2 linked regions of the Homo sapiens genome follow. The protein of the gene in region 1 interacts with the protein of each later gene in a biochemical or structural test. Each region holds a gene or a part of one and is shown in the gene's direction. Other genes may lie near its edges. The genes, in order: NPNT and ITGA8.

What was found.
Region 2: the proteins of NPNT (region 1) and ITGA8 form a complex in vitro, tested with the Homo sapiens proteins (one study listed by BioGRID).

The regions. Positions count from the first base shown.
Region 1 is NC_000004.12:105,889,274-105,900,847, forward strand, and holds the start of NPNT (nephronectin isoform B precursor), read left to right. Parts: upstream 1-6,197; 5' UTR 6,198-6,379; coding exon 6,380-6,450; intron 6,451-8,624; coding exon of another isoform or gene 8,625-8,627; coding exon 8,628-8,728; intron 8,729-11,574. UniProt on the Homo sapiens protein: Functional ligand of integrin alpha-8/beta-1 in kidney development. Regulates the expression of GDNF with integrin alpha-8/beta-1 which is essential for kidney development.
Region 2 is NC_000010.11:15,714,348-15,726,516, reverse strand, and holds the start of ITGA8 (integrin alpha-8 isoform 1 preproprotein), read left to right. Parts: upstream 1-6,594; 5' UTR 6,595-6,745; coding exon 6,746-6,954; intron 6,955-7,617; coding exon 7,618-7,751; intron 7,752-12,169. UniProt on the Homo sapiens protein: Integrin alpha-8/beta-1 functions in the genesis of kidney and probably of other organs by regulating the recruitment of mesenchymal cells into epithelial structures.

The DNA.
Region 1 (11,574 bases):
TTTATATATATTTTCCTTGTCTAATTGCATCAAATAATATTTCCAGGATATTTCAAATAAAAAATAGTGATATCAGCACCCTCTTCTTGTTCCTGACATGAATAAGAATTCTCCCAAGATTTCACCATTATACAGTATTCTGGCTTTTTGTTTCCAATAGAAATATATCTCAATAGATCCATCTCTCTCTATGAATAGAGTTTTTGTTTTGTTTTGTTTTAATCTGGATTATATAGTGCTGATCATAGGGTCTGTAGCACCCTTAGGAGGTCTTCTTAGGTTTAAGTAAACTTTCAGGCTCATGAGACTATCATGGCTACATTTGGCATCTATTTATACAGAAGGATACAGGACAGCCACCACAGTTTGCCAGTGTAGCATCAATTGTGTCTCTTTGGTGGAACACTTTACACAGCAGTACAGCTCAGGTGTAAGATGTGACCCACTTTACACAGGTGGGAAACTGTCTTGGCTTAATAGACTCATGCCCCTCTGGAGCATCTCTCGTGACAACCCCTTAGGCATAGTGCCCAGAGTCCCTTCAAGGGATATGCCCCATAAGAGTCACTGTACACAGGAGACCCAGTGGTTTGCTAAGAGGTGTATTTGGCTCTTCCTGTTTAAATGTGGTTTACCAATCAGGGGGCCATTTTAACCAGCAATATAGCAACAGACGTAGCCATGCATAGATAGCTAAATATAATTTTTATCAATACATTCTAGATATTCTGTAATTTCAGTTGTTATTTATAATTTTTTATTTTGACTTGAACACTGAATCTAATCTTGTCTCACCTCTAAAGTACTTTGCTTTTGAAGTCATTTTCTCTTTTCAAGACAGTAGAATCAGACTCTCATCCTCACCATCCCACTAAAACTAGCCTTATCAAGATCATCAGTGATCTCCTTGTCAAGTCTGATGATCACTTCTTAGTCCTGATCTTATTTAACCTTTCTATCTTTGGCTTATAAGACAATATACTTGCTTGAGTTTCCTATTACACCCCTATCTCCTCCTTTTCATTTTCCTGGGTTTCTTCCCTACTTAAATTTTGGAACATCCTTAGTTCTTAGTCCTTAGTTCTCTTAATTAGACTTCTTCTCTCTCCCTCCACTCTCTTCATTCTACATCTACATTCACTGTCTCTCATCCAGTCCCAGGGACTTAAATACTGTTGTGACTAACAATTTACATCTTGAGCCCTAGGCTCTCCGAGTTGCAGAGTTGTGCAGCATACTGCCTATTTGACTTCTCCACTTGAATGTCTATAAGACATCTTACACTTCACTTGTCTGAAGTATAACTTCACATAATAGTCTGTGGTGGTGACTATTAGTTGCTCTCTAAATTCTGCTCTTCCTTCTTCCATAGTGATAGAAGGTTGAGTTAATGACTAGGCTATATTTTCCAGTCTCCCTTGCAATTGCATGTGACTATCTGATCTAGTTCTTTCCAGTGAAAGGGAACAGCATTAATAGGTGCTATTTCCTGGCTCTAGTCCTTACAAGAACAATTGTGCCTCCTCCATACTTCCTTTTCCTCCATCTCACTAGCTAGAATGGTAACTATTAGAGTGACTGTGAAGGTGAGAGAGTCACTGTCAGGCTGGGACCTGAAAGACCTCATGGAACAGAGCTGTCCACCAACCTGATACACTCTCTTCAGACTGTTACATGGTGAAGAAATAATTTCTATCTTTTGAAAGTCATTATATTTTGGGGCTCTTTGTTGTAGCATTTTAACCTTTCACCTTAACTGACATAGAAATTGGTACCAGAAAAGATGCTTTCTTAATTTAAAACCCTGCATTTTCTTAATGGTCAGGCAAATTTGCAATTAAAGATATAGGTAGGGGGGCAGAGCAAAGAGTTTTTTTGCTCTGTTTATGATGGGAAGTCATTGGAGGGATTATTCAGTTGGACTGTGGTTTTACAAGGCATAACTATAGCTGCTCTGTGTAGGCTAGAAAGCTGGTGATGCTTATGCTATTTCATAAAATTGTTATCTATAATAACTTGGAAGGCACATCACATATCCAAGTCAAAGGAATATAGTTGTAAAAATGAGAATGTTAGCGTACTTCACTGTTCTTTGTTGATTTAAGTAAGGTATCATAAGAAAGATGAACTCAGGCAAGAACTGGCTGCTTTGCAAGCAGAAATGGAAGGAAGTGAGAATGTCCAGAAATTAAGGGCCTCTCAGGGCTGAAGAAGACAGCTGTTTTTGTGACCCAAACATTAATAAAAATGCAGGGATCCAAGCCTTGTGGCAAGGATCAGAGTAAGGTATCGCCCTCCTAAGCAACACTATTATTTCAGCTAGCCTCAAGGTGGCCCTCCATTAAGATGAGAAAGTAAAGTATGGATACAAGGAAGCAAAGAAATAGAGCAGCCTTCAGAACTAGGACTAGAAAAGACTTTGCTGTTATTTCCACAAGCAACTGACTGGAAGCAATTAGATCAGAAGCCTATTACGGTTTTAAGGAAATCTAGTTGCCACAGAAACCATGAATCTGTTAGCTCCTTAAAGCAATACTCAAGCCTTCAAATTTTTATCAGCAGAAAAGGGGTTGTGAATGATATGCAGCCCCCTAGGAAGGCATTTTCTGTAACAGTCACTTCTGATATGGCTATGGAAAATTATGGACAAGGTAGTTCCTCTAAGAGAAGCAGAGTATCCCAAATGTCTAACCAAGGCACTTTCTGCACTGCCAGAACAGAGAGTCTCCATAATTCTTGCTCAGCTGTGAGTCAAAATTGCTGTGAACAAGAAGCTATGTGTATCTTTATCTTAATAGGAGCTTTTAAAAGCAGTCATCCTATGCCTGTGCCACTACTGTGTATGGGGTGTGGGAAGAGAGGGAGCAATATCTTGTTTAATGGTTTGTATGACACCAACTATGAGAAGTCATTTCAGAGCTTGATAGAGAAAACACACCGCTCTACTGTCTGCGTGGACATGGGCTGCATCCCACACCCTCACGTGGCTCTCTCCCTCACTTCATTCAGTCTCTGCTCAAATGTTACTTCCCCAAAGGTGACCAAAGCACTCCATCTACAATCACACCTCCATCATTTTCTACAACCGTAACCTCCCTTTATCCTCTCCTTACTCCTTTTTTCTCTACATAGTCCTTCTGTATTGCTCCCCCACTGGAATGTAAACCCTTTCAGGGCAGGACTTTGTCTTGTCCTTAGCTGAAATCCTAGCACCTAGCTAGAAATGGCCAATACATTATAGGTCCTTAATAAATATTTACTGAAAAGAAAAAAGACTATGAGCTTCTAAATTTGAAAGGTCTGAAGTTGTGTTTGTTTGATTCTGTTTTGCTATTTATCTGTATCACATTATGAATGGTCACAGAAAATTATTTGTGCACGAGAAAATTGAGATTACTACCTGCAAGGTGTCATTACCTGGTAAGAAGCCTATCAAAAGTTTGTCCTCCTGAAAAAGTAGTTATTGCTAAAAGCTAGCTGTTTTGATCTCATTCTTGCTCATTTGTTTTTAAGACTGAGATAATGAAATGTCACTCCCATGGCAACTCTGCCTCTTTTTCGGAATGATCATTGGTGGTCATAGTTGCAGCATAATAACCAGTTAGACCTTGGAAATCCTTTAGATTCTCCTTATTCCATGATTTAACAAAGACTGATATAATTAGCTACATTTTACTGAAGGGAGAAGCTAAAGTTCACAGGCAGAATTCAATTTAATCCAATCCATCTGTTTAATCTTTGCTGAACTTAAGCTTTGTGCCAGGCATTGTGCTGGGGATAAGGGATATAGTGACAAGACAGACACTGCCCTGGCCCTTCTATTGGTTAGACTAATGTCTCACGGGACCCAGAGTGGTAGGGAGGCAATGACAACACAATACATTAAGAGCTACCTTAGAGCATGCTAAGTGTAATAGAAGTATATAAAACACTAGTCTCAGCCAATCAAAAAGTCAGAAAAGGCTTCCTGGGGGACTGTCGGCTAAATTTAAACTCAAAGGGTAAGGGGAGATTGTCCAAATGAAGAAGGAAGAGGAATGAAGAGGAGGCTAAATTTAAATGAAGAAGGAGTGTTTTCTAGGCCAAAGCAAATATATGGAAAACAAAAGAAAGACGCATGTAGATGGGGCATTACACTTTTCCCTCCAGTTATTTATCCTGTTTTCATCCACCACTCTTCGTCTTTTCCTTAGATCTCCAGTTTTTTAGCCGTATATTACCCCCTTTCTCTCTAATCATCCATTGCACACAGTGAGGTTTATTTGTAAATCTAACCCAGGCACCAACTAACCAACCAACAAACAAAAACAGCTAAGGAGTAGCCACTGGAACCTGGAACCATGCCTACACTTACAAAAATTTGATTTTCTGCAGAAAAAATATTTTGACTCCTACATTTTTGGACTTCATTAGAAGGACCTGAAATGGATGACACCAAGCTGTTTGCCTAAAATAATGTCCCAAGCCTGAATTGGCATGGATCTTTCTTGAGATTAAAATAGAAACTTGTTTTGCTAACTGAAAACAACTTAGAAATCAAAGAGCCATTTAAGTTGAAACCATTATTTTTCCTTTCCTTGAAGAAAATTCCTGTTTTTACACACACTGAATGATCAGGATAGTGAATCACCCTACCACAGAACTTTCCATTAAAAATTTGAAGTTGTAGAAACCTCAAAAAGAAAATGAAGATGGGGGGAAAACGTTTGTAATGTAGCAAATGAATTGAATAAACATTTATGAGCACCTACTATGTGCCAGGCAGTGTTCTAGGTGATAAAGATACCTGCCTTTGTACAGCTTGCATTCTAGCGGAAAGAAAACATACAAACAAAAAATATGCAAGTTATATAGTAATATAAAAGATGAGTGGTATGGAGAAAAGACAAAGTAGGACAGGCCAAGGATCATCAGAAGGAGGGCAAGTTAGAGGTTTAAATAGGATGGTCATGACTGGCCTCTTCAAAGAGGTGTGACATTTGAGCAAAGACTGAAGGAAGTGAGGGCGTGTGCCATGTAGATATTTGCAGAGGGCAAGTTGCAGTTTTAAATAGGATGATCATGATTGGCCTCCTGGAAGAGGTGACATTTGAGCAAAGACTGAAGGAAGTGAGGGTGTGAGCCATGTAGATATTTGGGTCCAGATAGAGAAAACAGCCAGTTACTGGCCCCAAGGCAGGGGCATGCCTGGAACATGCAAGAAAGGCAAGGAGGCCATGGACTGGAGGAAGAGAAATGAGGACATTGAGAGGTACGGGAGATGACAGATGATCACTGCACAAGGCTGTCATTCGAGGTAAGGTTGGGAAGAGGGGTGACTTGATTGGGCTCATGTACATCTTAGGATAATCATGTTTTCATTTGAACACAGTCATTTAGTACAATACTTTTTACTCTGCAACAACTGAACAATGATTACTTAAAATGGTTTCTAAGTGATCCCCTCAAGATCAGGCACCACAACACTACTAGGCAGTAGCAGCCCTTCCTCTCTGGCAGGCACTCATCCCTAGAGGGGCAGTCCTGTCCTAATGTGCTCGGGAGTTGAGCTGATAGAGACAGAAACAGTCTGCTCATTTCTTCTTCAAAACCCGACTGGAGAGCCAAATATTTCTTTTGGTTAGTTACAAAATAAAAAATATGCCTTTGCCAACTCTGCGGGAAAAGCAAACTCCCAGAGTTTGCCTTCGCTAATTTGTCCAAGTCGTGCTGTGGTTTTAGTAAATGCAGACACTGCTCAGCTCCAGCCCCATAAACCTCTCTGCTCTAGGGCTTCTCCGCCCTCCGGTGAAAGCTACTGCTCGCCCCTGCAGTCACCACCTGTTCGGGCGGAACCTGCGGAGCGTGCACCTACGCCTCGGGCTCCTTTCCTCCTCCACTCCCCTTTCCTGCTGGGCACCCTGCTTTCCCTCTCCCAGAGAGGGTTTGCAACTTTTCTCCCAGGCTGGGGCTCGCCCTGCTTGGCTAACCCCCAAGAGCCACTGCCGTCCCGCAGCGCCCCTGCCCCCGAGTTGCCTGCCCCGCTGGGCCCCCGGGAGGAGCGGAGCGCGCTCACCCTTCGCCCGGGGCTGGGAGGGCGGCGAGTCGGGCGCACGCGCACCCCCTGCCCGCCCCTGGCGCCCCTCCCCGCGGGCGGTGCAGCTACCCCTGCAGCGCCTCCCCTAGCTAGAAGGGAGCGGGAGGGGGCTCCGGGCGCCGCGCAGCAGACCTGCTCCGGCCGCGCGCCTCGCCGCTGTCCTCCGGGAGCGGCAGCAGTAGCCCGGGCGGCGAGGGCTGGGGGTTCCTCGAGACTCTCAGAGGGGCGCCTCCCATCGGCGCCCACCACCCCAACCTGTTCCTCGCGCGCCACTGCGCTGCGCCCCAGGACCCGCTGCCCAACATGGATTTTCTCCTGGCGCTGGTGCTGGTATCCTCGCTCTACCTGCAGGCGGCCGCCGAGTTCGACGGGAGGTGAGCTGGGCCCCGGGGCGCCCTCTCCTCCTTCCCGCGCTAATTTCACACTCACTGTCTTGGGTCACTTTTCCCCGCGGGGTTTCGTGGTCAGAGAGGCGTCTCCTCCATCCAGAAGTTGGGCCACCGCACAGCGTGGCGCGAGGAGAGCGGTCCAGCGGCTCCGAGTGCCCGCCCGAGGCGGAGAGGGCGCGCCCTTGCGAGTCTGGGACCCCATCCGCGGCCCCCCGAGGGCGACTCGCCCCGGCTCGGGAATTAGGACTGAGGGAGAGGAGCCGCTGGAGCCTGGGATCTCGGCTCTGAGGGCGCGGTTTAGCCACCTACGCCGAGGTGACGCGCGAAACATCCCTTACCCGGGAAACTCCCGCGCCTGAACTAGACGGCTCTTCACTGGGGAAGCTTCCAGGCCCCCGGGGGGAGGCCCGGGCTCTGCTCAGGGCTCTCGGGGCCGCTCACACAGAGAGTGGGTGCGAGTCAGCGACTGGGCTACGGGGGAGATTTGTGGGCCTCTCCATTTGGTTTTCTTGAGGGAAGGAGACTCAAAATGAGGACCGGAGGGTGGGCGCTCCGTGAATGTGAGCATGAGTGTGTGGATGTGTGTGTGAGAGCGCACACACTGCGCCGCTCCTCAGACTCGGGCGAGCCTGACGGCGGCGTGCTGTGACAGGTTCCAACAACCTCGGGCCGCGTCTCCGCTGTCACTCAGCCGGTCCTCCCGCGCTCCGGGGCCGCTCCGGTGTGTGAGAGACACTGGGTCTGTCGGGAGGGTGTGCTCGGTCCCCCTCACCTCTGTGCAATTACAGACTAGGCTCGTCCCGGGTGCAGATGGCTGCTGCGAAAAGAGGTTTTACTCTGGCGCACACCGTCGCCCGGTCGCCTTCCTTCAGCGACCTCTGCCCCCACCCCTCCGTGTAGGTCCCTGCCTAGTCCTAAAGAAAGATGCCGCACCTGTTTTACCTTTAATCTTGGAACGAATCAATTCCACAATTGATTCGCTTTCTTGTACCCGGAGGCGAACGGAGGGGAACCAGTGGAGCGCCAAGAAAAAGCACAGCTGCTTGTTCACTACCTGGTCGGAGGAAATAGAAAGTTCGGGGTTATTTTGTACTTTGGGCCTGGGGGTAGAAAGGCAGGTAAAAGAAAAGGGGAATTGAAAAAGATAAGGAGACTTTAAGAAAACGTGATAGCAGCCAGAGTGTAGACCTTTTTATTTTATTTTTAAAAGCAATTCTGTGCTCACATTTGGGTATGTTATGCATTTCTTGCACACATATTTGCAACAAGAAACCCATCACAAGATATGCATATGATGTGAATGCATATAGCTTTTTGTAACTTTAAAAAGATGTCTAAAACAGCAAATTAAAATGTTGATACCCAGAGGAAAAAAGTCATTTAGGTGTGACTCTAAACAAGGAAACAATTTAGCAAATAATGTGTCAACGTGTAATCAGGTGGATAAATCTGTATCCTGAAATTACTTTCTTTAGGCATTATTTACATTAGAGAGGAAAATACTATGAATTGTTGATCTAAGCACGTTTCAAACCACAAGGATACTTGAGATATCAGCTACACTTTAAACTCTCCTTGGTTTTATTTAGACTTTTTTCTAGTACTTTTTTGTTTTTTTTGTTTCTGCCACAGTTATGTCTCAAAAAGAGCTCTGTTACACTTGATTTTTGAGAAACCTTTCTGCTCCTTCCCCCATCCACCTTTTATATGAGGCAGAAATTTTTTCTGCTTTGACATGTCTTACTTAATACTTTTCAGTTTATGGTGAATCAGTCAAACCTGGCTTTCACCCCAGTAACAGGTGTGGGTCTTTGAGGAATCTGTTTTATTTCAAGCTTCAGAAACTATCCTGTGAGTGGCAGCCTTGAGAATTGTTGGTGTTAGCTGGTGCTATTTCTACTTAAGAAAGCATCTTTCCCTCCCGTTTTTTCTCCTACCCTTGTGTGTTGGGGGATGGGGTATTTAACTGTCTGAAATTTGACATTAGATCATAGCAGAACTATTTCTGTGAAGGTGTTTTAACCTTAAATTTCTGCAGGCATAAAAGAGTTTGTAGAAAATTGTTGGGTGTGGTTGACATTTTTTCTGAAGTAATAATACAGAGGAAATTACCTTTCTTCTCAAAAGTGTCCTTATTTATTTTGAATCTTTTTTTTTGGTAGGTGGCCCAGGCAAATAGTGTCATCGATTGGCCTATGTCGTTATGGTGGGAGGATTGACTGCTGCTGGGGCTGGGCTCGCCAGTCTTGGGGACAGTGTCAGCGTGAGTATCAAGCCTGGGGACTTCAGTTCCCTGGGAGGTGTGGCTTTCCACCTTGTTCATGGCTTCACCCCACATATCAGAGGGTTCATTACTGAGCAAGGCTTGGCCTTGCAGGTCTGACTTGGGGATTTTCAGGTACAGTCCAGACTCCTTATTCTGCTTCTTTTCAGCTTTAGCCACCTGTATTACGGCCCAGCTTTGTCATTCACAGAGAGCCACCTTAAATGTTTCTTTTAGCATTTTTCCCCCCAAATCTGCATCTCCTTCCTGTTTTCTTACCAGGTTTATTTCTCTCTCTCTCTCTCTCTCTGTCTCTCTCTCTCTCTGTCTCTCTCTCTCTCTCTCTCTCTCTCTCTCTCTCTCTCTCTCTCTCTCTCTCGCTGACTCGCTTGCTCCAGGCTGGGAGATGGGGATAAGATAATGAGTCTAGACCGTATTTACACTGGGGATAAGATAATGAGTCTAGACCGTATTTACACAAAATAAACTCTGAACCTTAGAGTACTTATATAATCCTCACCATAGCTGTTGTGTAAAGTGGCCCATTTGTAAATCCTTTTTTGGACTGGGGTTGTATTGACAGTGTTTTAAATGGACCACCCAGTATAATGAAACAAAGCCACTGAAACAACATTATTTGTAAGTTCTATAAGTAACCAACCTCATGTAATAAGTACCAAATCAGAAAGCTGATTTTCACCTTTTCTGTGACCACAAATGGATATTTTAATGGTAAAATTTAGAGCTACATCAAAAGAGTTTGAGAAATTTAGGAAATTTGTCCCCAGCATTTTATCGCGATCTTAAAATTGTATCTCACTCCTACTGCAAAAAAATAGTCTTCAAATGATCAAGTACCTTTCCAGAGCACCCTTAGAGTGCTTGGGGCGGGGGTAGGGGGCACTTCTGGTAAGATGATGGGAACTAAGTTGGGTTCTACATTGGGATATATATTTTATTGCTAATGAGGAGGAGGCTTAGAGGAAGAGAGAAGGGCAGTTACGAAGGCTAGAGCTGGCAATGGAGAAGCCTGCCTTAGAGATGGGTTGCTAGTGTGAGGAGTCAGGCAAATTTAAGTTCAGGAAAGTTAGGAGTTCCCTCTGCTATTTTAATTTTTGAGGATGCTTGCAATGTCTTCCTTAATTTTGTGAAAGAGGGACAGTGACAGTCACAGATTGACTCTAATTGCACATAAAGACCACAATCTCTGGTTGGGAATAGAAAGGTAAAGGAAATGAATGTTTGCCTACCTGGTATGGAATTTGAGAACCAACAGATTCTAATAACCAAAATGTGAAGAAAGGACCCTTCTGTTGGCCCAACACACCTACACATAACCCTCCTGAGTGAAAAATGAGTAGTTCTATACCTGCAGTCTCCAGCTGTGCAAATACTTCTGATACTACAGAAGACTAAATTCCACCAGGCACCATTCTTCTTTTTTGATCATCTTCCCTTAAAACAATATTGAATAGACTAACCAGTGAGTGTACAGCAGCTTTGCCTACTTCTTTTGTTTACTGGAAACTGGAGTTACCACCATCTCCCTTTAACAGAATGTAATTGACCCCCCGTGCAAAGGGTCTAGCCAAGCAGCTCGCACATAGCAGTTAGGCAAACATTCGTTTGCTTCACCTTTTATGTTTATACTTCCAAAATCAAAGTAGTTCCAAGGTTTTCTATGTTACAGTGAAATAAAATCCCTTTCAATTAAAAAGGCACAAATGGTTCTTTACTATTAACATTGAAGTTGGTGAGGTTGTAAAAATTAGCTCAAAGGTGAATGTTTCCTTCTGTGTATTTTATTTTTCCAGCATCTTAGATGGCGCAAATGTCTCTTGTCAGTTCAGAGTTCTGCCTGTCTTTGTTTTGATATAAGCAGGTAGAGGAATGTGGGGCTGAGAAGTAAGCTTGAAGGGGCAGAACAAACCAAAAAGAGGCTGATCAGATTGAATGAAATATCTCTGAAAACTCTTGATTATTTTAAAGAAAGTCTTTATGAAATTAAAAGTTTTGTCACTACGTTTGTTCAAGAAAATGCCTTGCTATTGTATAACAATTCAATCTAATATGATTCCTTATAAAGATTCCAAAGAACTTCTAGCGAATTTAATGTGAGAAATGTTTTTGCCTTTTCGACCTTTAGATAATCATGTAGTTCTTTCCCATAAGGAAGGGCTATTCTCCCTTCCTCATCAGAGGTGCTCTGGTTCTCTTCTTTTCTGAATGATTCACTTTGGAATTTTCCTTCAAAACAGCATAGCAAAACAAAAAGAAACTATTCCCATTACTGCATAGATCTTCCCAACTTATCCCATAGAAGGTGTGTTTGTAGGTAGGGAAAGGTGGTGGTACCCTCATTATATTATTTAACAGACCTTATGCCTTAGTGCAGTGACCCTTTGGTGAGTGTTTATTCCGTTTGGTTGAGCATTTGTGAGATGTTTGACTTAATATTCATGTGAGTCAAATGTACGTATCTGTACAAAACATGCTGCCCTTCATTTTCACTTGCTATCTTCCTATCCATGGTCTTGTTTGGAGAAACCGACTAATGTTGCAGGATGCTAAAGCTGGTAGACCTCTCCTTCTGGCTCACTATGTCTAAGCAGAGCCAGATATAGCTGGGAAACTTTATATCCTTCCCTCTAGGACTCAGGAAGGAAGGATCAGAGATGCTACTCAAATGGGCATAGAACCTGTCCTGCTGCTTCCTGCCTGTACCACCCAACATTCTATCCCAACATTCCTGCCTGCTAGGGAAAGCATGACCCGTTCCAGAAATAGGCAGGTTGTGTTTTCATAGTTCTTTTGTAGGTCATACCCTTGGTTGTTTTTTTTTTTTT
Region 2 (12,169 bases), on another chromosome or scaffold:
TTGCATGGTGCCTGAGACAAAATTGGTGCCCATATTTGTTAAAAGGATAAAAACAATGAATAAGTAAATCAAAATCAGGAAGCCAAGTGAGGTTGAGCAGGACATAGTCTTTGCATGGATCACAGTGACAACTAATTTGGACTTTGTCATTAGTTGGGAAAATATTATTTTTATTTTCATGGGACACTTTCTCCCTCCGAGTCTCCCTGCCTGTCTTCCTTCCTTCCATCTTTCCTTCCTTCTCCCTTCCTTCTTTCCCTCCTTTCCTTCCTCCCTCCCTCCCTCTCTCCCTGCCAGTGTTCCTTTGTTCTTTCCTTCTTTCATTCCTTGCTTCCTTCCTTTCCTCCCTCCCTCCCTCCCTTCCTTTCTGTTTCTTTTTTTCTTTTTCACCTAATGATTTGCAAAGCTATAACAAGGAAATAAAAATCTTAATAAATGTGGGAGAGATTAAATCAATGTTTGTAAACTTTTTAATAAAAAATATTTTTAAAATCCATTTGTAAGAATTATCAAAATTGTAAGGCCAAAGCATTTTTCACAAGGAAGGTTTGTATTATTCCTGGAAAATCCCACACACTTGAATAAGATCACAGACACTAGAGGGCAGTCCTAGACACCCTGTGGTTCTCCTAAAGGCAAACTAAGCACAGCAACTTAGCCTGGGGTTTTAAACACACTGTTATCAATGCATCAGTTGCTCCGGCCTTCACCCGCTTCTGCAACTGAAGGACTTCCCCACTTATTTGTAGGAGGCATTGGGTGTGTCATCTGAGTCCTGTAGCCTCCCCCAGGAGCTGAGTAAAGTGGTGTCTGGCTGCTTTAGAAGCCTATACCTCCCTGATTGTCCAGAACCACATCTATTGCTGCTGTTACCTGGGGTCCATGAAGGTGCCTGCAGCCCTGTGTTCACAGACGCCTACACTTTCAAGTCCTGGGGCGTGCACGGGTGGGAAGAATGCACCACTTCTCATCTTGCCCTTTTTGCCGAGGACCAGGGTGGTGCTGCTCTGAACCCTAGCACTTTATGGTGACTCAGTTTTTTTGTCATAAAATAAAAACCTTGAACATTCCTGCAGGCCCTCTCCCCACCCCCCACCCTTTGCACTGGACTCCAACATGAGTCCCTTGGGGAACTGGAATTCTCAATTGCCAGACTCCTAATTTACGGCTTAGATGCTATGAGTTCCCTTCTCCTCTCAAAAGTTTCCTGTAGTCCTTTTGGCCAATAGTTACTAAATGATCCAGCCCACCAACCCAACACACATGTGTAGGTCTTTCAGCATACTGGAGTGAACTGACCCTGTGGAAACATGTAAATCACTCAAGATCCTGATTACAAACTCAGCCCTCTCCACCCACAAGGGCTGTGAATCTCAGGAAGATTTATCCTCAAATGTCAATGCTTTGGAAGAACATAGCTTTCCACAGTTACCTTCCCTTTGGAGGAAGAATTCTTTTACTTTTATTTTTGTTTAAAGCAGAGCTGCTTTTCAAGGCTTGTTCTAAAAAGAGATCAAACTGGAGTCTGGTTTTGACTAGTGGGAATTTTCCTTCAGCTAAACCAACTGTTGGCTGTGCTTGAACTCCCGCCAATACAGGGGCCAGTGCTACAGCACTTTTAAGTTAAAAGTGGCTAATAAAATCATGAAGGAAAACCATAAAAGAGAATTACAAACAAAATCATCAAAAAGAAAAAAAAATGGTTTTACTATGGGTGAAATTCACCCTCCAGGGACCGAATAGAAAATTTGCAGACATAAGCTGATGTCAGCAGAGACACCTGACACATTTAAAAGTCTTTTCCCCTCAGTAAGTTTAACCATCCAGTTTCTACTAATCAGTTGTTTCTAATATTGCAGGAAAGCTGAGTTCAGTTGGGCAGAAAAAAAATCTGACATAACCTCAATTATCCATTTTCTAAGTAGAGACTGAAAAGCTACCTTCCATTCCTGGTGCATTGATTTTTAAAGCTGATGGAGCCTCCGAGCACACATTGCATTCACACTGGCTTATTCTGTAAATAGTTTAAAATATTTGAAATGTGGTTCTATTAATGAAATAATTATATTGACACTTTCACACCTCTTGATTTTAAGGCATGATCATATCACATAAAGAAATAGATTGAAACACAATCAGAAATAATAATTGGTCATTAAGTTAGACATGTTTTTGATTGAAAAGTATGCACTAACTGGTTAAATGGTCTGGCATTTCTATTTTTAAGTACTTCGTACATGGCTACAACTCAGACATCATTTTTTTCCCCTGTGGTACTCTTTACTTGTTTATTTTTGGAAAGTTTGGGCCAAATCTGTTCCATCTTTGACCTTTGGGTTCTTTTCTTTTCTTTTTAGGGAAAGAACTATGTATACCTTTCCCAGTACGAAGCATACACATATGCTCACATGGATGATAAACAACTCGCAGACTTGCTTTTCTGACAAATAAATCAGTGCTGGTAGATCTTTAAAATGTCAAACTTCTCATTCAGCATGAGACCTGTCACTGTCCATGTGTTTTTTTGACGAGTCCCCAGATCTTACCAATTGGCATGGTTCCCGTATGTCAGAATGATGAAATGTACAAGACACCTATTCAGACTTATCCCTTCTCTACAATTATTGCAATTGGGTATTTTTTTTTTCCTGGCTTCTTGGAAGGTTTACTACTCTCCCAGGCTTTTGGCCTCCCAGGGAGGTCAAAGAGCTTGGAGTTAGTTTGCGTTCCCTCCAAAACACCAAGGTGCAGCCAAACCTTTTTCCACGACCTCTCGGAAAAGTACACAGCAGCTTTATGCCATCTCTCAAGGACTAATCATAGGCATGCCCAGAGGGCAGCCCAGAATAGCTTACTACCTCTAGAAAGGTGGCTTCTCATTATTATCATGGCTTTAAAACCTGATTCCTTATAGATCTAGTAGCATGAGGAACTGGTTTTGGCATTTGATAGGGTTAAAATAGTACGACTTACTTGCCCTGTAAACATGCATATTATTTTACCTCCCCAAACTTTAATGTCCTCATCTGTAAAGCAGAAAGTGACCATATTAAGAATATAGACTTATGTAAGTCAACAGCAAGTATGTTTTAGAACACAGAAATAAGAATATACCTAATTATGTGTCAGTAAACAGATTTTTTTTCCCTTATCTACTCTATTTTTGTTGTTGTTGTTTTGAGACAGAGTCTCACTCTGTCACCCAGGCTCGAGTGCACTGGCATGATCTCGGCTCGCTGCAACCTCCGTCTTCCAGATTCAAGCAATTCTCCTGTCTCAGCCTCCTGAGTAGCTGGAATTATAGGCATGTGCCACCACACCCAGATAATTTTTGTATTTTTAGTAGAGAGGGGATTTCACTATGTTGGCCAGGCCGGTCCCAAACTCCTGGCCTCAAGATGATCCACCAGCCTCTGCCTCCCAGAGTGCTGGGATTACAGGCATGAGCCACCATGCCCAGCCTCTCACTCTATTTTTGAACAAAAAGACTAAAAAGTTTAAGAAATATGCCAAGGAAGTAAGCAAGTGGGTACAACATGGGATACCCTGGTGATGTGCTTCTCTATGCAAATCAAAGCATTGTGTAATATATAGCTAGTTCCACCTAGTAAGTCAGCACACAGGTCAGGTGCATGTCTAGGATCATTCTATCACCTTCTGCCTATTTAGATGGTTCTCATCCATCTCAGGCTAGCTTGCAATAGGACAGATTTCCAAATTTCAGCATGCCAGTGTCAGGAAATGATTGAGTTGAGGTTATTTTTCTAACCTCAGTGTCCAACACAGTTGTCAGCATTCCTATTTGTATGCTGCCCATGAATTCCTCATTGAAAATTACTGAAGGGAACACCACTTTGATGAACAATAGTAACTTGATCAGAGTAGCAGACTCTGCGTTCAAAGCAAATGAACTTTTAAAATGAGAAGCAAGTCTTCTACCATCTACTCCTAAGTCTTTACCTGGGAAAGGAATACTCAGGAAATTATCCAGACGTGACAATTTGCCAGGGAAATTTTTGATAGCTTATTTATTTGTATTATTTTTACAGGGGCATGACAAGTAAAGATATAACATTCAGATCAGTCTACTGAGTGGGTTCTGATGTAAGGGAGACAAGAAGTCCAGCTTTTCAGTAAGTTCAGAGATTTTTTTCTCTGGATAGACCCTCAAATCAATGGACAGACTGACCACTCCCGAAACTGCCATCTACATTGCTAATCGCAGGCTAGTAACTCAAATCAGTGAGCCCAGCACCTAACTCACCTTCTACTTCCCCAATCTGCTGTCCTAGCCCACTGCTACCGTTCGCTATTCTTCTTTTCTAGGTTAATACCTTGAGACACCTTGAATTTTTTTTGAGATGGAGTCTCGCTCTGTTGCCCAGACTGGAGTGCAGTGGTGCAGTCTCGGCTGACTGCAATCTCGGCTGACTGCAAGCTCCGCTTCCTGGGTTCAAGGGATTCTCCTCCCTCAGCCTCCTGAGTACCTGAGTAGCTGGGATTACAGGCACATGCAACCACACCCAGCTTTTTTTTTTTTTTTTTTTTTTTTTTTTTAGTAGAGACGGAGTTTCACCATGTTGGTCAGGCTGGTCTCAACTCCTGACCCTGTGATTCTCCCGCCTCGGGCTCCCAAAGTGCTGGGATTACAGGCGTGAGCCACTGTGCCCAGCCTGTCCCTTTTCTTTAGCATTTGTGGCCCTCCCCTCCCTTCTGTTAACCAGCTTGAGGTCCTCGCCTCCCAGTGCATCTAGGCAACACCTACTTTGCTTTCCCTTCCTTCCAACAACTACCCCCCACTCCCCACCCCTAAACTTTTGGAGCCCCAGAAGGTATGTCCCGTCTCTGCTCTAGAACTGGCTCCCTTTGCCTCAATAAATGTTATTGTTATTAAGATCCTCTTCCTGAAGATCCAGTCAACCCTATTTCCCACCACTTCCTAACCCACCCCTTTTATTCCAATCCCATGCACAACCATTTAATCTCTGTCTTTTCTAAGTATTAATACCTTCCCTCAACTTCTCCCCCCACAGTGCCCAAATGTAAGCCCCGTATTCAAAATCCTACGTAAATGTACATCTGCCACCAAATCCTCTTACATGCTTCAGAAAAAACTTAGCTCTTCTGTCTCTAAACTTCATATCTGTTTAACCTCGGCTCCTTCCGGTTTCATGCTGACCTGTTTTGTTTAATGTTAACGAATGACCATATGTTATGTAAAGGGATCTATACTCCTTTCTCTTCTCTGTCCTCCCCTACTCAAGCCTCACGTCCTCTCCGACACAGGAGACATGGGAAGAGATTGACAACACCCACGGATCAGAACCGAAATCTGAACTCCTGTAGACTGTGAACTACACCTTCTACCCCCGCAGAAAGTAAACTGTAAATTCCAACATTCTTAACTGCGCCAAACTTCATCACAATTACACAGGATGGAGATTTACTACTAAGTCATTTAATATGCCCAAGATGCCTTTAAGAAAGATTTAAATAAAATCTCAAGGGCTGGGCAAGGCGGCTTACCCTGAAATCCCAGCACTGTGGGAGGCTTAGGTGGGAGGATCGCTTGAGTCCAGGAGTTCAAGACCATGTTGAACAACATGGTGAGACCCCCATCTCCTTAAAAAAAAAAAAAAAAAAAAAAAGAAGAAGAAGAAGAAGGAGAAAGAAAGAGAAACAAAGAAAGAAAAGAAATTTTAAAAGTCAACTCGAGGTGGCAGGACGGCTTGAGGCCAGGAGATCGAGACCAGCCTAGGCCACATGAGCAGACTCAGTGTCAACAAAAAAAAATTAGAAAATTAACCAGGTGTGATGTGTCATCTGCAGTACCAGCTAATCAGGAGGCTGAGGCAGGAGGATCGCTCGAGCCCAGGAGTTTGAGATTTCATTGATCTATGATAGCACCATTGCACTCCAGCTTGGGCGAGAGAGAGACCCTATCTCTAAAAAGAAAAAAAAAATAAATAAAACAAAGCAAACCAACCAAACAAACAAAAACAAAAAATTCACACATGCACACACACAGGCGCGCGCGCACACACACACACACACACAGACACCCAACAACAAAAACAAAAAAAAACCCTCGAGGCTTTCTTGTATATGAGTTAGCTCTGCCAGGAGGTGGGGTGGACTTAGGGGAGGAGAGGGTTGTTGCATTTCAACTTTAACTCTCATCACAGACGTGCAAAGCCGTGAACGCTGAGGTCAGGCTGCAGAGGTGATGAAGAGATAATTGCTTTGCCCCTCCTGGTGGTGGGGTTGGTTTTCACATTCTCCATCCAAGCTGCGCCTTTGACACAACTGGAGCAAGCTCTCGCTCCACCTGGGGCATTGCTTCTAAAGCAATAAATAGCTTGAGGTGACAGAGACGAAACTGATTGTCCTTGAGATGGGACTGCAATAGAAATCCGGGCAGCCCGAAGAGGCACCCAGCGCTCCAGCCACCAGCTGGGCCGCCCGGGAGTCCCTGGCTCTAGACCAGCCGCGAGGAGGCGCCGCGAGAGAGCTGGTCCCTGCCCGCGGCCGGAGGAGGGCTAGAGCCCCTGGGCCAGCCCCCCGAGCCGGCTGGGCGGGCGGGCGGGTGGGAGCAGACGCCGGGCACTGTCACCACGGGTGCGCCGAGCGCACCGACCCGGGACACGGGCAGCTGGGGACCGCCAGATTCCACCAGCCCCCCTTGCCCCGCAGGGGTCCTCGGCTCGCGCTCCTGGGTAGCAGCCACCCACCGGGGCGGAGGGAGATGTCGCCCGGGGCCAGCCGCGGTCCCCGGGGAAGCCAGGCGCCGCTGATCGCGCCCCTCTGCTGCGCCGCGGCCGCGCTGGGGATGTTGCTGTGGTCCCCCGCCTGTCAGGCGTTCAACCTGGACGTGGAAAAGCTCACAGTGTACAGCGGCCCCAAGGGCAGCTACTTCGGCTACGCCGTGGACTTCCACATACCCGACGCCCGCACGTAAGTCGCCCGACCCGGGGAGGTGCGCGCGGGGACGAAGGCGCTCCCGGGTCAGGTCCCAGCGGCTCTGCCGCGGAGTCCCCCCGCAGCCTGGGATCCCCGTCCTGCCGCCTGCCCGGGGTCCCGTCCCTCTCCCCGCCACCAGCCCCTTCTCTCCCCTGCCATGCTAGATGTGCCTTGTGAATTTTGAGCTAGAGACATGCCACTTGCATAGAACACGCAAGTCCTGGGTGTTCCAGGTACCAAGACGCACGCATCCTACAAAGGAGAGAACAGGACCCAGAAGACCCAAGCCAGTTAAAACCGCCACCACAGCGAGGTCTGTTTATGCAGAGTCTGTAACCATTGCGTCTGGGCGCAAGAGCTGTCGGCTACCAGCAGCTGGGCTCTGTCCTTGGCTTCCTCCTACCCCACCCCCTTCTCTCATCTCACTGTACCCACAGAGCTCCACCTAGAGAAGCAGGACCGTTTGCATTCTTGCAAACCAGGTTGCGGACCCCCGTTTCCAAGAGGAAATCAAGTTTGACAGTCGGTCCTCATCATAAATACGTTCATGCCCTCCACGCCTGCCCCAGTGTCCCCGGGCAGGAGGTTACAGAGACTGCATTGCATGCGCACGGTTTTGTGGCGCCCAAAGAGTGACTTTCTCCAACTCTTTTGCAGAGCGAGTGTCTTGGTGGGGGCGCCCAAAGCCAACACCAGCCAGCCCGATATCGTGGAAGGGGGAGCCGTCTATTACTGTCCTTGGCCCGCGGAGGGGTCTGCGCAGTGCAGGCAGATACCGTTTGACACCACCAGTAAGTGAGATTTGTCCTTCTAAGCTGTGGGCCTGGGTTTGGAAGAACCAGGGCCATCCCAGAGGCGACTTCCCGCTGTCTTGGTGTGCTGCTCGTTTAGCTTGTCTGATATGTCCGTATTGTGGGCTATGTGGGTCTCTAGAGAAATCAGTTTTTTCAACTCTCAGTTAACTGAAGGAAGACGTTTAGTGAACCCTAGAGAAAGGACACTATTTTGACCCTGAGTGTTCGGATGCATCCTGGCAACTCCTGTTTCTTTACCTTTCTGAGATGAGCATTTTCAGGGTGAGTGGATGTTTTGGAGAAATACAAAAACTATGTCCTAACTTTGACTGTGGAGAGAATTTGGTTGCTTCTCAAGGACAGATCTGGAAAAAGAGAGATCCTTAGCGTTTCCAGTGCCCAAGCTCGGGAGGCAGGACTTAGCTGCTGCAGACCCAGACATCACTCCGCGTTGCTGTTTAATTCTTTACAGAAAGAAAGAATTTTCTTTCAAAGTATTAGACATTGAATGCAAACTAGTGCAGGCAGAGTGTGGATGGATTACATTCATTTCCAAAATCCCTAGACAGATGTTTCTTATTTAATTAAAGGGAAAATACATTTTAAACAATTCAGTCTGGTTACGTTTCCTCTGGTGTTTTCTCTTTAGAGCCTGAGAAAATAATTTAAATGCGATGCTTTCAAAAACATTAACACCGAATGCTTTAATTTTTACCACCAAAACTTTATGAATTCAAAAGGTATATATTATCAGAAAGCAAATATCTCTTTCCAGAAAAATGCGAATATGTCAGCTTGAACAATGGTCCTTGATAAATAATCGTTTAAAATACCTTGTGTACCACACAACTATTTTATGACATACTTGATTTCTTTGATTTTTAATTGTTTGATTAGTGCGTATATGGAATTTATGCGGAATATTTTCACAGAATTTCGATGAAATTGGCTGGATGATGTTTACTTGTTACTATAATTTGTATCTTTTATGTTAAAGGAGAAAACAATTTCAGTTTCATAAATATGAAAATATTTCAAAGCAAAACAGACTATACAAGCATTACCTTGAATTATGACCAAATTAGGAAAGTATTTTATAAAAGCATTGGAAAATTATATTTTTATCATGCCTGTCTATATATGGTCACAATAGCTTATCATTTTATTAAATATTCTGTTATTTTATACCAGTTTTTATAAGCTTTTACTTTTAAATTTGAGTATTAGCAACCAGGAAGATTAAACCTTTTGATGTTAATTTGTGACAGAAATCTTTTAATTAGTTATTTTATCAAGACTTGAGACACTTTCTAGCTACTGCTCTCTAGTTTAAGAATAAGCTTCGTAAACCAAAAGAATTAAACATTTAAACACAAAATTAATGCCATTTTAATAATTCATATCCGAATCATTTGTATTTTTAAAAGTATTTTAAAGCAGGCCAAATAAAGACATGAATCATTAACATTATTTGAATTTACATTAAGGAAAGTATATTTTGAGACATGGTTGATGTGTTTTCACCAAGAAGCAATTTATGGTCGTGGAAAAGAATTTAATAATCTTCTTGTATAGTCTCATAACATCAAATCAGGATCTGATTAGTATTTTTTTCTTTTGATAAAGGAAGAATCAATGTCTGCCCTGATAAGTTACAACTGACTTACTTTGTAAGTACTCATCCCAATAGATGTCATAGGCCAACAGATTAAAAACCAGAGAATCCAGATGTCAACTATGAATTCAAAAAATAACTGACCACTCCTAACTGAAAATTTTCAATATTAAATTACAATAGGTAGGCCAGGCGTGGTGGCTTATGCCTGTAATTCCAGCACTTTGGGAGGCCGAGGCAGGTGGATCACTTGAGGTCAGGAGTTCAAGACCAGCCTGACCAACATGGTGAAACCCCATCTCTACTAAAAATACAAAATCAGCCGGGCCTAAGGGTGTAATCCCAGCTACTTGGGAGGCTGAGACAGGAGAATTGCTTGAACCCAGGAGGGAGAGGTTGCAGTTAGCCAAGATTGCACCATTGCACTCCAGCCTGGGCAACAAGAGTGAAACTCCATCTCAAAAAAAAAAAAAAAAATACAATAGGTTATATTTTCCAAGTTCATTCTAAAGCAATTGCTTGAAGCCTTGAATTCACTCTCCCATACAGAACTAATGCTGAAAGATGTGCTTTGGTTTCCAGAATAGCCCACAGGAATGCATTTAACCCTTATTGTAGCTGAATTATATTTGCAGTAAAACAGTAGGGGACAAACTAGAACAAGTTGGCAATTAAACAGAAAAATAATGTCCAGAAAATGTCAGTGTTACTTGGAGAAGACAATGTCCTCTTTTGTGTAGGTTAGGAAAATGTCTAGATATCTCAAAGGGCTTTAGAGATTGATGCTGCTCATTCCACACTATGTCTTATTTTACTTCCAAATATATAGTGGTTTACTTGATAAATAGATGAATGCACTAATCCTACTATTATACTTATCAACTACAATCATAATAATTTCAGAATTCACAAATGGAACAAAGTGAGAGAAAGAAAGGGGAAGAAAAATCAATGTTCCTGAAATAATTGAACAGGAAATTTAAAAAGCAAGGCAGGAAAGGCTACACAAGTTTGTGAGAAATGAATGGTCCATGACAGAATGAACAAGGCTGTGACCTGTGAAAGACAGGGAGGTCCCACTGGGGAGGAGAAAGGAATTGTTGGGAAAAGAAAGTTCCCCATGTCGGCCATCAGGGGGTACTATGGGCCCAGAAACCTTGATTGCCAGTGGGAATGGCCTGAAAATGGGTGTGGGGAAGGAATCCACAGGGTCACAGCTCAGGTGTTTGCTACCAAGTGGTTGCTCACCCTCTATACCTCATCTGTGCCAATTGCTTTGTCCTTATACCCTCAGATAGTGGAACTGGCAGTGGCAGCTACTTGATGCAATGCTGTGCAAGTGAAGAAGGCACAGCAGATGCCAGTGTAGCTATTTCCATTCTGAACATCCACTTCGTGGACAAAGTAGAATGTTAAAACGAAAGATGAAAGGTGGAAACAGACATCACTGGCTCTGGGTCCTGAAGTCAGTGTTGCCAGAGGCATCCCATTTACAGATCGCTACTATGTACCAGACACGGTACACACATTGTTTCTACTACATAAAACAAATCAAAACAACTATGTAAAACTCATTCTGTAAATAAGGAAACTGACATCAAAGGTATACCCAAGACCGTACAGTGGTAGGTGGTAGAGGCAGGACTGGAATAGAGGTCTGCCCAGTTCGCAGCCTGCTTGTTCCCCTCACCTTCCTTCCAGAAATGGGGAGAGGATTGACCCTGATAGACTGCAAGTTCAGGATTATGACTAAGCCCCCAAGGAGCTTTGGAAGGCTATATTTGCCTTCCCTCCCTCTCCTCCATTCCCCTACTCCAGCAGTGGCTTTACAATTCCATTTTAAATTATTCTCCAGAGAGGGGTTGGAAAGGATAAACAGTTTTGGTGGAAGCATTGTAGAAGCAGGGTTTGTCTTGGTGGGAATGATGGGTCGCATATGCCCCTGGTTTGCTCAGACTCCCACAGAATGCCCCTTCATGGTCTCTGATAAGCTGCCTCCTGAGTTACTCTCTGCTCAGTGCCAGTAACGTACTGTTCTCCCCCGAAAAAAAGGAAGAAAAGTTCTCTGCTTAACTAAGTAGTGGCCCCAAATTGACATCCGCATAATGGAGTGTGATGTGTCAGGCATAAAAATGTATATTGCAAATATTCATCTGTCAAGACATCAGTGACTTTCCTGGTCTTTTACCCTACTTTTACTACGACATCTGAATTCAAGACATCCTAAGTAAATTTGACCTTTCAATGAAGTTGTTTCAACTTGTTCAGGTCCCTGGGGTGTCTACAATTGGGTATTCTGCTCTGGTAACCAACTAAATTCTCTCAGCTTAGACTTTGAAGGAGACAGCCCTATAACTGAGTCCCAGAGTCCAGTTGAGATCCTGTTCCTCCATTTATTTAAGGTCAATTGCCATTTTCTAAAAACTGCCTTTCAGGTTTTTTTTCATGAAATAATCATTATTTATTTTATTTTTACCTTATCATATAACTTGATTTTCTTTAACATTTCTCATGATGAATACAAAAATAGAGGAAGCTTGCACTAGGCCCAGCACTTCAAATGCATGAATACTAGAAGCATATGCTGGTGGGGGAGATGCAAAGAGTAGATAATTTTCCTGCTCTGTACAGAATCAAGGGGTTCCAAAAAAGCACTTCTCTGATCTCCCTTCTGTCTTTCCCTCTTTACTTCAATAGAAGAAAATTCCTCCTATCACCAAATTGGTTTCTTTCACTTTTGTCTCAGGAACTCTTTAAACTATGCCCTATGTCTTAAAGAGTTTAAAATATCACATCTGCC